Homo sapiens: one gene and its partners. The protein of the gene in region 3 purifies or fractionates together with the protein of the main gene of each other region. This does not show direct contact. Each region holds a gene or a part of one and is shown on either strand. Other genes may lie near its edges. The genes, in order: PCNT, CCDC102A and TXNDC11.

What was found.
Region 1: the proteins of TXNDC11 (region 3) and PCNT purify together in Homo sapiens (affinity purification with mass spectrometry; 3 studies listed by BioGRID and IntAct, with this or other methods). This does not show direct contact.
Region 2: the proteins of TXNDC11 (region 3) and CCDC102A purify together in Homo sapiens (affinity purification with mass spectrometry; 2 studies listed by BioGRID and IntAct, with this or other methods). This does not show direct contact.

The regions. Positions count from the first base shown.
Region 1 is NC_000021.9:46,428,612-46,432,257, reverse strand, and holds part of PCNT (pericentrin), read right to left. Parts: intron 2,249-3,646; coding exon 2,026-2,248; intron 1,752-2,025; coding exon 1,601-1,751; intron 730-1,600; coding exon 43-729; intron 1-42. UniProt on the Homo sapiens protein: Integral component of the filamentous matrix of the centrosome involved in the initial establishment of organized microtubule arrays in both mitosis and meiosis. Plays a role, together with DISC1, in the microtubule network formation.
Region 2 is NC_000016.10:57,533,667-57,538,010, forward strand, and holds the start of CCDC102A (coiled-coil domain-containing protein 102A), read right to left. Parts: upstream 2,906-4,344; 5' UTR 2,834-2,905; intron 1-2,833.
Region 3 is NC_000016.10:11,678,525-11,681,308, forward strand, and holds the end of TXNDC11 (thioredoxin domain-containing protein 11), read right to left. Parts: intron 1,314-2,784; coding exon 671-1,313; 3' UTR 559-670; downstream 1-558. UniProt on the Homo sapiens protein: May act as a redox regulator involved in DUOX proteins folding. The interaction with DUOX1 and DUOX2 suggest that it belongs to a multiprotein complex constituting the thyroid H(2)O(2) generating system.

The DNA of each region.
Region 1 (3,646 bases), on a different chromosome or scaffold from region 3:
TCGTTTTTAGGTGTGGACGCTCCGCCGGCAGGCGGCTCTCACCAGCTTCTCCTTGTCTCTCTGCCACTTCCTCCACTGCTCCGCAGCCGCTGGGCTCTGCCTGGCCTCCGCGCTCCTCCTCGCAGCCTTGCGTCCTTCTTGCTCTTTCAACCGTGGGTGTGACTGCTCTAATTCTGCCTGCAACCACGCTGGTTTCTCCCTCTCTCTCTCCAGAGAGCATCTCAGCTCTCGTTTTTGGGTGTGCAGGGCTTCCACCGTCGACTTCAGTGTGGCACTTACCTCCTTCTCTCTCCTGAGCGCCTCACAGTGCTTCTGAGCCTCAGCCTCAAGCTGCTGCTGAGAATGCAGGGCTTGCTGCTGCACCTTTTCAAGCATCGCTTGCAAGTCCACCACCCGGGACTTCTCCTCCTTCAGCTTCTGCAGCAGAGCGTGATGGGCCTGTGTGTCCTGGTGCACGCAAGCCTCCTGTGTCCTCTGGCTCAGCTGCTCGGTCAGGAGCCGCTCGTGCCGCAAGGCCTCTGACAGCTCCAGGGTGCGGCTCTTCTCAGCCGCAAGGTCCTTCTGGAGCTCAGAGAGCTGGCTCCGCTCCTGAGCCAGCAAGGCCTCGCAGCGTGAGTGCTCGATACGCAGCTCCTTCTGCAGGTTGTCCTTGGCCGTCTGCTCGTGTTTCAGTGCCACGCAGAGTCGACTGCTCTGAGCACGCTGTGTCTCCAAAGACGCCCGCAGCTCCTAGACAGCAAACACATACGATGGGAGACACTGAATCAAGAGGAAAAGTGTCTACATGGTTTTCCTGTCCACATTTGTTTATATACTTTAGCCCAGCAATTCTACCTTTTGAAATGCACCCTATTAGCCACATGTAGGGACAACATTTTTTTGTTAGTTCATCAAGTAACAAAAAACCCAGACTGCGGAGATGACATACTTTTTTCGGAAATGGTGTTGAGTCCTGGGTTCAGAGATGTTCCCAGTCTGTCCCTCTCCAGAAAATGATTCAGAGATGTCCCCTGCCCGCCCCCTCTCCAGAAAATCACTCCACCAGAGGCTCCTGCCCCCTCTTCAGAAAATCACTCCACCAGAGGCTCCTGCCCCCTCTTCAGAAAATCACTCCACCAGAGGCTCAGAGATACACACCCAGCTTGCTAGGAACCACCACTTCCATGCTGTTGAAAGCCATAACCCATGGAACTGGCACAGACTTGCTCAGAAGCCACAGCAGGCCTGCTGGGCCTCCGCCATGCAAAGCAGAGGCCCCACCACCAGCCTGCCTTGTGCACAGACCTCTGAGGCTGTGCTCTGTCTGGATGCCAGCGAGGAGGCTGTGTCCATCTCCACAGCAAGTGCTCAGGGACGGGGGGGGGCTCCGAGCAGGGGTATCGTGCCACCACGGGTCATCGCACTCTTCGCCCTGTGGTGGCTGCCACTACACCAAGGTGCAATTTTACCTGCAAACACAGCCCTATCCTGCTACGTCACACTGCTGTCAACTGGGTGCACTGCCATGAAGAACAGGAAAAGAAGGATGAAAGAGGAGCATGGCTTCAGGCTTCCAGTGCACACAGCCCATGCCGGCTGCCTTGCCCTGACACCCTGTTACCTCCAGGGCCTTGGCACTCTGGCTCTCCCTCTGCAGGTGCCGCAGCTGCTCCTCCTCCAGCTGGCTCTGCAGGGCACGCCCCTTCCCCTGCTCACTCTCCAGCTCCTGAAGCGCGGCCTTCAGCTCGTTCTCCTTACTGCTCAGCATGGATCTGCGTGGAGACATCGCAGAACAATCTGACCACGTGGGCCAGAGTGTGTTCCCGGGGGCTGGGAGCTCCAGGAGGGGAGGCAGAGCCCTGCCAGGTCCCACACGTGTGCTTCACCCCCCACCACAGGATTATCAACCCAGGGACAGCAGGGCGCGGTGCCCCTGGGGCTGCCCAACTGCGGCCCACCAGAGGTTCTGTCTCCCTTCATCACCAAGAAAACATGGCACAACGGGGGGACTCCCGCCAGTGTCCCAGGAAGGGGGATCAGGCGCACCTCAGCTGGAGGACCTCCTGCTGCACCTCGCAGAGGGACCGGGACAGCTGTTCGCTCTTCTGCCTGCTCTCACAGAGGTCGGACTTCAAATCTCGCACTACAGTCTGCTCCGCCGCCAGGAGCTTCTGCACGCTGTTTGCCTTCTCTTGCTCTTCACTCAGCGTCTTCTGCAAGTCACCAGCAATGCACTTCTCCTGCTCTACTTTATAAGCCAGCAGTTCAACTGAGAAAGACAAAAGAACAGTAACAGGCCCCCATGAGCTCCTCGTGCTGCACAAGTGACACCAGGTTAGAGACAGACTCGTGGGGGCGTGAGGTGTATGTGCTTCGGGAAGAAAGGAGGTTCTGTGGACTAGAAGCTTTCACTGCGGGTGGAACCAGGATGCTCAATTCTGCCCTCTGGGCCCATTTCCTTCCAGGGCCCACCCACCTGGCCGGGAGACACAGAGTCCAGGAGTGATATAGCCCTGGGGCCATCCTAAAAATGCCACCTCACCCCCACTCACACCCTAAACTGCCTCCAACAGAGGGAACTCCAGGCCCAGGTGGCTTTACTGGAAAATTCTCCCAAAACTTAAGGAAGAAATAACCCCAATTCTAGACAACGGAGGGCGGAGGGGCTACTTCCCAAATACTTCCCGCACCCCGTGGGGCTGGCGCTACCCAGCACCAAGACCAAAAAGGCACAACAGAAAACAGACCAGTGCCCCTCACGAGCACTCAGACAGCACCGGCCCACCACCCCCATGCCCCTCACGAGCGATCGCACAGTGCCGGCCCCCCTGTGCCCCTCACGAGCACGTGCACAGCGCCAGCCCCCCCATGCCCCTCACGAGCGCTCGCACAGCGCCGGCACCCCCTGCCCGTGCCCCTCACGAGCACGTGCACAGCGCCAGCCCCCCCATGCCTCTCACGAGCGCTCGCACAGCGCCGGCACCCCCCGCCCATGCCCCTGACAAGCGCTTGCACAGCGCCAGCCCCACCCATGCCCCTCACGAGCATGTGCACAGCGCCGGCCCCCAGCCCCAGAGAGCACAAAGGGCATGGGCGCCGGGACAAGGGCCGTGGGCTGAACTGCAAGGCCGTTCCCCTTGACGGAATCCAAAACTAGGAACAGAGGGCACTTGCCCAAGCTGACCAAGGGCGCCTGACCCCACATGCGATGGTACGAGACCAGCTCCTGCCCCCAAAACTAAGAGCAGGGAATGGCATCTGCCCACACAGCTGACGGCACAGCACGTGAGAGAACACGGGCAAGAAACAAAAAATCGTTACTTACCCACAGATGACCTGAGCATCTACATAAAAACTCCCGAAGAAGCTAAATTAAATGTAGAAACCTACGAGACATTCCTGAACTCTAGCATGAGCTCCCAAGAATCTGCCAGCACTCAGAGCCCAACCCAGGCCCCTCTTGCCCACATCAGGCCCAAGAGTGAGGCCTCCGTGCCAGCCCCACCCAGCGCTGCCTGTCTCCAGGGTCCTTTCTGCTCAGTCCTATCAGCTGACAACCATGGCAACACTCAGGGGCTTGACTAGATGATGCCCTGTCACCACCCTCTGCTCCCAAGGCCACACAGGTGAGTGTCGGGCGGGCAGGTGCAGAGGCCGGGCCCCAGGC
Region 2 (4,344 bases), about 46 Mb from region 3:
TGCACTCACACACAGCCCCAGTAACGTGCACACACACACATACAGCCCCGGTAATGCACAGACTCACACGCAGCCCCAGTAACGTGCACACTCACACACAGCCCTGGTAACGCACACACTCACTGAGGGGCAGCAGCAGCGCAGAGCATGGCTTACAGTCGTGGAGATGCCCCAGCTGCCCTGCCCGCCCCTTCCACCAGGCTCAATGCCCTCTTGCCATGGGGTGTCTATGTGCGTGGGGCGTGGCCTCCTGTTCCCTTGGCATACTGCCCCACCAAGGGGCAGGTCACGGTGGGACCGGCCACCACAGGCCCCGGGGAGCCTTTCCTACCCCACCCTTCGTTGTCCTGCCTCCCAACAGCCAGACAGGTCTATTACTGCTTTAAGTCTCTGGGTTTGTATTCCAAATGCCCATGTCCCAGACTCCAAAACCCCCACCCATCTTCAAGTTCAGCTGCCACCAACTCCAGGAAATGCCTTGATCTCCCCAACCCCACCCCCACCTGGGGACCACAGCCCTACAACCTCCCACAGCCAAGCCTGGCAAGCTGCCATCTCTCTTCTGGCAGTACAGGCTTCCCTCATCCAGATGGGACACTTGTGCCACTTAGAGCTTCCATCAGGGCTCCTGAACCCCAGCCCCACAGCTGTGCTCACTGGTAGCTCACTCCAGGACAGAAACAAGAATATTTTGAGCTGACACTTGCTGCAGGCTAGGCCCTCATCAGCCCTGCCCACAGAAAGTGACCCAGTGGTTCCTGTTGCTTGTGGACTTGTCTGGAATATCTCTCCTTCCTTCATCAGCAAACTCCTACACATCCTTCAAAACCCACCTCCAGTGTCCCCTCCCCTAGGAAGCCTTCTCTAACCTCTCTGCACAGAGTATGCTCCCAAAGCACCAGGCACCTCCGTGTTCTACAGCAAAGGCCTTACTTTGAAGTCCACGAGCGAGGGCATCAGCACAGGGCCCAGCATACAGCAGATGCGTGATGGATGGAAGGTACCCCTAAGAAGGTGGTACCACTCTTAGGGGTACCCTTGTGACCATGCAGAGTTTGGGAAGGTTGAGTCATCCTAAAGATCAGGAGTCAGTCGGTGGCCAGGCTCTGAGACAGGTAGGTATCTGAGCCTGTCTGGCCAGGGTTGGAATAAGAGGTCATCTCACGGCCAAGTCGGCTGTCCCACCTTTTACCTGGGGAAGCCTAATTGACCCACTGGGAACAGCGTTGTGTTTTGTCCTCAGCATGTTTGGATGGGTCTCTCCATATCAGTGAGAGGAATGAGCAATGCCAAGGCCTGGACAGGGGCCAGCTGAAGGGATGGGGAGCCCAGTGCCCCAACCCCTTCCCCGGCTCTGAAACCCTGTAGATCCTCCCAGAGCCTTTCAGGTAGGGCCCTGGGACAAGCCCATGGCCACAGGCCTGGCTGTGGACAGAAAGCAGAGCCCAGTGGGAAACCACAGAGGACAGCCTGATTGAATAAGTGCAGGGCCCAAGGCTGGTCAGCCCACAGACTGCGGGCACCTGTCCCTGTGACCTGCTGCCCAGGATCCAGCTGCAGGACCTCTGGGGGGAGCTGGCTGGCGGGAAAGGAAGGGATGGCGGCTAGGCCTCCAGGCTGGACCTAAGCCCAGGGGTAGGCACCCCTGGCCTATTCCCAGGTAGCCCCATCTTAGACTGAGGAGCCACAGAGACAGCCTGGATCATTGATTTGAACTCCTTTCTTTACATATGGACCAACTGAGGCCCAGAGGGACAGCTACGTGTCTGTGTCCACACCGCGGACCAGCAGCAAGGCCAGAGTAGGGAGCTGGTGATGGGATGCCTCCTCTTCTGGATCTTAGCCACCTGAGGGGCACAATGCCCCCGAGAGCACCTACACGATGGGGTCTGCAGGCACCAGGCCAAGTGGATACGCACAGCTGGAATGGTGGGGTGAACCTTCATGGGGACCCAGCCCCACCCCGACCCCAGCCCCACCCCTCTCGGCAACACCGTGAACTCTTCACTCTTGTACAGCAGACATCCCGCTAGTCCCAGCTCCATCACTGATATGCTGTGTGATATCTGCAAGTCCCTGCCCTCTCTGGGCCTCAGTTTCCTTACCTACAGGATGGGGAGAGGCACTAAAAAGATTCCTGAACGCTCTAACAGGTGGGCAGACCTCCCGAACCCAAACCAATCCAACCCCCACAAGAGCCCTGGGAGAGCGGGGGTGGGAAGGTGGACACCACCCCCACCTAAGGTACTGAAACTGAAGCCCCAGCCCTGCGTCGCCTTAGTCCTCACTTAGTCGACCCCTCCCAAGCCGCTGGCCCTGCGAACCGCCCCGCTCCACCTAGCGACGGGCGGAGGGTGGAGGGGGTTCCCGGCCCGCGCCGCGCGGTCCCGCCCACCCCACCGCATGGCCCCCATTGGCAGTCGCCGCGGCTCTGGGCAGGGCGCCGTGCTCTGATTGGCCAGCGCCGCCCGTCCATCCCGCATTCGCCATGGCGACCACGTTGGGTCCCCCGGGAGAGTCCCAAATTCCGTCCCCGCCCGCCGCCCCCTCCCGTCCGGCCCGGGCCGCGGCATTCCGGAGGCGCCTCCCCTCCCCCATCACCCCGCGGCCCCTCCCCACCGGAGACCTGGGGTTCCGGGGGCTGAGGGAGGCCGGGGAGGCGTCTAGAAAGTTCTGCTCTGAGTTCGGGGGTTGCCGCGGGCGCCCCGACTGTGTCTGCTCCTCCAGCACGCCCCACAACTTAACCCCTTCCTTCCCGCGGAAGGCGCGCGGCCTGGAGCAAGTTCCCGGGCCGCCTTGGCCTGCCGCCCCCCGGCCTGCCGCCCCCGCTCACCTCGGGCCGGGACTTGCGGGCTCCGTACGTCCCAGCCGCTGCGGCGGGGTAGAGCGGGCACCGTGCAGCTGCGACCGCCGCCGGAGGGGCCGAGGGAGGGCCGCGGAGTCTCCTCCTCCCTCCCGGGGGGAGGGGAAGCAGGGGGAGCGGCGGGGCCCCCGAAGCGGTCGCAGGCTGCGGCCCCGCTGTGACCCCGGCCCACCGAGCTGCTGGGGTGGGGGCTCCAGCCTAACTTCGGGGCGAGGGGTGCGGGCCGGGGCGGTGGGCTCTGCTGCAGAGCGGGCCGTACCCCAACGGAGGCCCCACCCCCGTGAGGGGCCGAGAGTTGCGGGGGGGCTCGGCTTTCTTGGTTCAGGTTTCCTCAGCGCCAACTACGTACTAGGCGCCCCCAGCAGAAACGGCCACCGCGGGTCCCAGCTCGGCACGTGGAGCGAGCTTACCAAGTCTTCACTGTTGTTACCTGCATTTTTCCCTGGGCCAGCTCTGCCACCGAGTGGAAGTGGGCCAACAAGTCTGTGCCCATCGGGCCTCAGTTTCTCTTTCTGTACAACAGAAGGGTTGACGAAAGCAACCTTGCGCTTGTTAAGAGGTGGGGGGCGCGGGGAGCACTCGGCCCGGCGGGCGGAGACTTTTCTCTGCATTGCGATGGTGGTTGGCAGGCCCTGGGGAATTACGGTACTTCGCCTTCGGGGACGCCCAGCTGTTTTGGGGCTTTCTCTCTATTGGGGGTAGGATGTTTGTGGTCTTGACTGGAAAGCCGGGACAGGCGTCTGGAGGACTCCCCACTACATCCTGTACCCTGGAAGGCCCCCGAGGTGAATCTATTTAAAAGAAGACCAACAATTCACCAAGATGGTGGGGAAAACCTGGCCTGATTGGGATTTTACCTAGAAAAAGAAGCTAAATATTACGAAGATAAATTAGTTTTACCCCGTGATTAACGGAGTTTAGATTATGATTGCAACCACGCACGCCTTAAAATGAACCAAGAATGAATCAGATGTTAACACTGGAAGTCTTGCTTTTTCTTGTAATAGTTGAGTATGTAGCATCCTTCCCTTCTGAACTGGTTTTTGCAGTAAGAGATTCATTTTTGCAAAAATATTTGAGAGCTTCCTCAAACTCAAGGATCACTCTGAATCCTTTGATAGTCCAGTGCCTTTTTTCGGGTCTGGGTCACTTCCCTTGCAGACGTTCCCTTTCTCTGTGGGCAGCGGCTGTTCCATTTCTCCTGCTTTGCTTCCACCAACTTCATGAAATCCCATACGTTGCAAGACTGGCAGTTTCACTTGTCGATTCATTTGCTTTGTATTTGTTATGCGTGGCTGAATGTTGAAAGCGTCTGTTCACCAGCCAGAGATAGATAGGAGATGTATGTGGGGTTTGAGTACTCAGAGGACAAGGGCATCCACATTTTACAGCTGAGGAAATGAAGGCTCAGAGAGGCTCTTGGCTCAGACTTGCACAAGGTCCTACAGCCAGTAACAGCCTTGGATCAAGAGCCCAGAGGT
Region 3 (2,784 bases):
GAAGTGATTAAATGTCACTTCCTCATCAGTTTCACTTCTGGAGGTTTTCTTATCCTACTCCCTGGTGCCAGGGACGTACCTGGGAGTTTGAATCAGGCCCATTTGAGCGTGGCAGCCGTGTTGGGTGAAGGTCCGGGGCTCGGTGAGGCACTGGGGGGGTTTTCGGGAGGAAAATGAAAATGCTTCTAGAATGAGTGAACCACATCATAGCTCTCACTGTTTTTTCAATAGCTACTTTTTTTAGCAGACACCAGAGCCACACTCAAATGGCTAAGTAGGTTATGACCTCTCTGGATTATTTTTGAATGCCCAACTGTTGCATTCAAGTTTTCTGACTAATAAGAAATTAAGCATTCATCCTTCGTATCACTGCAGAAGCAACAGTGGGGGCACAGGGAGGGAACTCTTGACACTGAGCCACTAAAATATGGACTAATTTTTTGGACAAATCTTCAAACGGACTGTGCTACTGTATTTGTCTCAAAGCTACCAAGTTTGTGCAATAAGTGGAAGGGATGTCATCCTTCTTCAATAAATGCTGAATGACATTCAAGCTGATTTTCTAGACCACTGAGAAAATCTTTATTTACAATAAATTTCAATAAAATTTGCATAAATATATTCCCAATGTACAATTTTCACCTCTGATTTCTTCATATCATTTAAAAAGTTAGTCTGTCCTGTTCTCCTTATTCCTTTCAGACACCAGTGTGGCGCTGACATTGGCAGGTGGAGGGGAGCTGCCAGGGAGCTGGGGGGTGGCTGAGGGCTCAGGCTGCTTGGGGTGGACCTCTCTCTGGGCCGCCAGGCTTTCAGCTCCATCCCTGCCCTCCAGTTTCCTCTCCATGGTCGCCACCAGGATCTTGAGCCACGTGTTCTCGGTAAGGAGGTTTTCTGAGGCATCGGCCAGCTCCTGCAGCTTGCGGGCCAGCTCCTGCAGCTCACGTGTCTTCTGCTCATAGAGGGCCTGCAGCTGCTCACTGTGTGCGTGGAGCAGGCTGTGCTGCTCTTCCAGGGCCCGCTGCTGCTGCCGCAGCCGGTGCTCATCTCTGCGGGCACTGGAGAGCTGGGACTCCACCTGCACTTGTGCTCGCTGGAGGCTGCTTATTTCTGCTCTCAGTTTCTGGATCTCTCTCTCCAAGTGGGAGATGTGCCCCCGCTGTAAGACTGCCTCGCTCTGAAGACACTCCTTGGTAGGAGAGTTAGCCACATTCTGGGGGCTGGAAGCAGGGTCTGAGTGATGCAAAATGAACCTCAACAGGTTTGGAAGGGTGATGGGGACGTCTTCGGGGTATTTCACACTTAGGTCCTTTCTGGAGAGAGAGGGAAAGGAAGCAAAGACAGGAGTCACACCAACACAATGAGTCCAAAAGCAGGCTGTACCTGAGGCCAGGCCATCTACTTCTCACCAAGAAAAGACGTTCCGTGGATTTTACTTACTGAAAGTAAGGAAAATGTTGCCTGGGCAAGAAATTCTCTACAAAGCTGAGGCTGTCCCATATGCTCGTTCTGTAATTAAGATGGCTTATCTGTTCCTGAAGCCAGAGCTCAGCTTCACCCACACCCTCCAAGAAAGACAAGAGCTCCTAGGCCCAGGCCTAAAGCCAGTGATGCAGGGCCCCAGGAGTGTGTAGGCATGGGGCCTCTGTGTGCTCGGAGATGCCCAGCGGCTGTGTCAGGAAGAGCGTCCAGGGGAGGCAGGAGTGTCCCACCTATGTCCCTCTTGTGCCCACTGACAGTGCCCGGAGAAAAAGGAAGAACTTGAAAGATACCCAGTCTGTTTCTTCAGCAAGCATTTATTACACATTCTCTAAGGCAGGGGTTCTCAACTGGGGGTGACTGTACCCCCATTCCCCAGGTACATCTGGCTCACACCTGGCAACCTGATAACTGGCAAACAGCCCAACCAAAGGACTATGAATTCAGGCTGCCCAGCCCTGAGAGCACAGAATAAGGAAGGAAGGTGACATAGAAAGGGGTTTTCCCTACAGCTTTGTTCCAGGTCCTGATCTAGAGATCTAGAAAATTCCTCTTCAGAACTTGTCATTTAATCGTCTGATGATGTTTCTCTCACATATCTATTTACCTGTGCCTGTACAGCCTGGCTGCAATTGATCAAAACTACCAGCTTTATGCACTTAGGTATGAGGTGGGCCGGCAGCCGAGTTTGTCTCCCTCAGGTGTTAACAGAATGGAAGTCAACAGCAGGGACTCCAGAGCCTGGCTGCCCAGGGCCACTGGACCCGGCCGTAAATTGTTTTATAATTTTGGGGTAAACATTCAACCATCCCCTCCTTTAAAGCTTAGTTTTCTTAACATATAAGCTTTCTTCAAGTGGGGCCCAGCCATTCAAATGACAAAGCTGGGTGTGGTGCTGTGTGCCTGTAATCCCAGTGCTTTGGGAGGCTGAGGTGGGAGGATCGCTTGAGGCCAGGAGTTTGAGACCAGCCTGGACAATATAGTAAGGCCTCATCTGTATAAAAAGTAAGATAAAAAAATTAGCCAGGCAAGGTGGCACACACCTGTAGATCCAGCTACTTAGGAGCCTGAGGTGGGAGGATCACTTGAGTCCAGGAGTTCAAGACTGCAGTGAGCCGTAATTGCACCACTGCACTCCAGCCTGGGCAACAGAGTCAGACCTTGTCTCAAAAACAGAAAACCAAAAAACCCCACAACAACTGAAAACACATCGTGGCCCTGTCAAGTGGGCCCATGGAAGAATACCAGACGCTGGACCTGCCCCCACGTTCTGCGGCACAAGCCTGGTCTTGTAAGGCAGAGTAA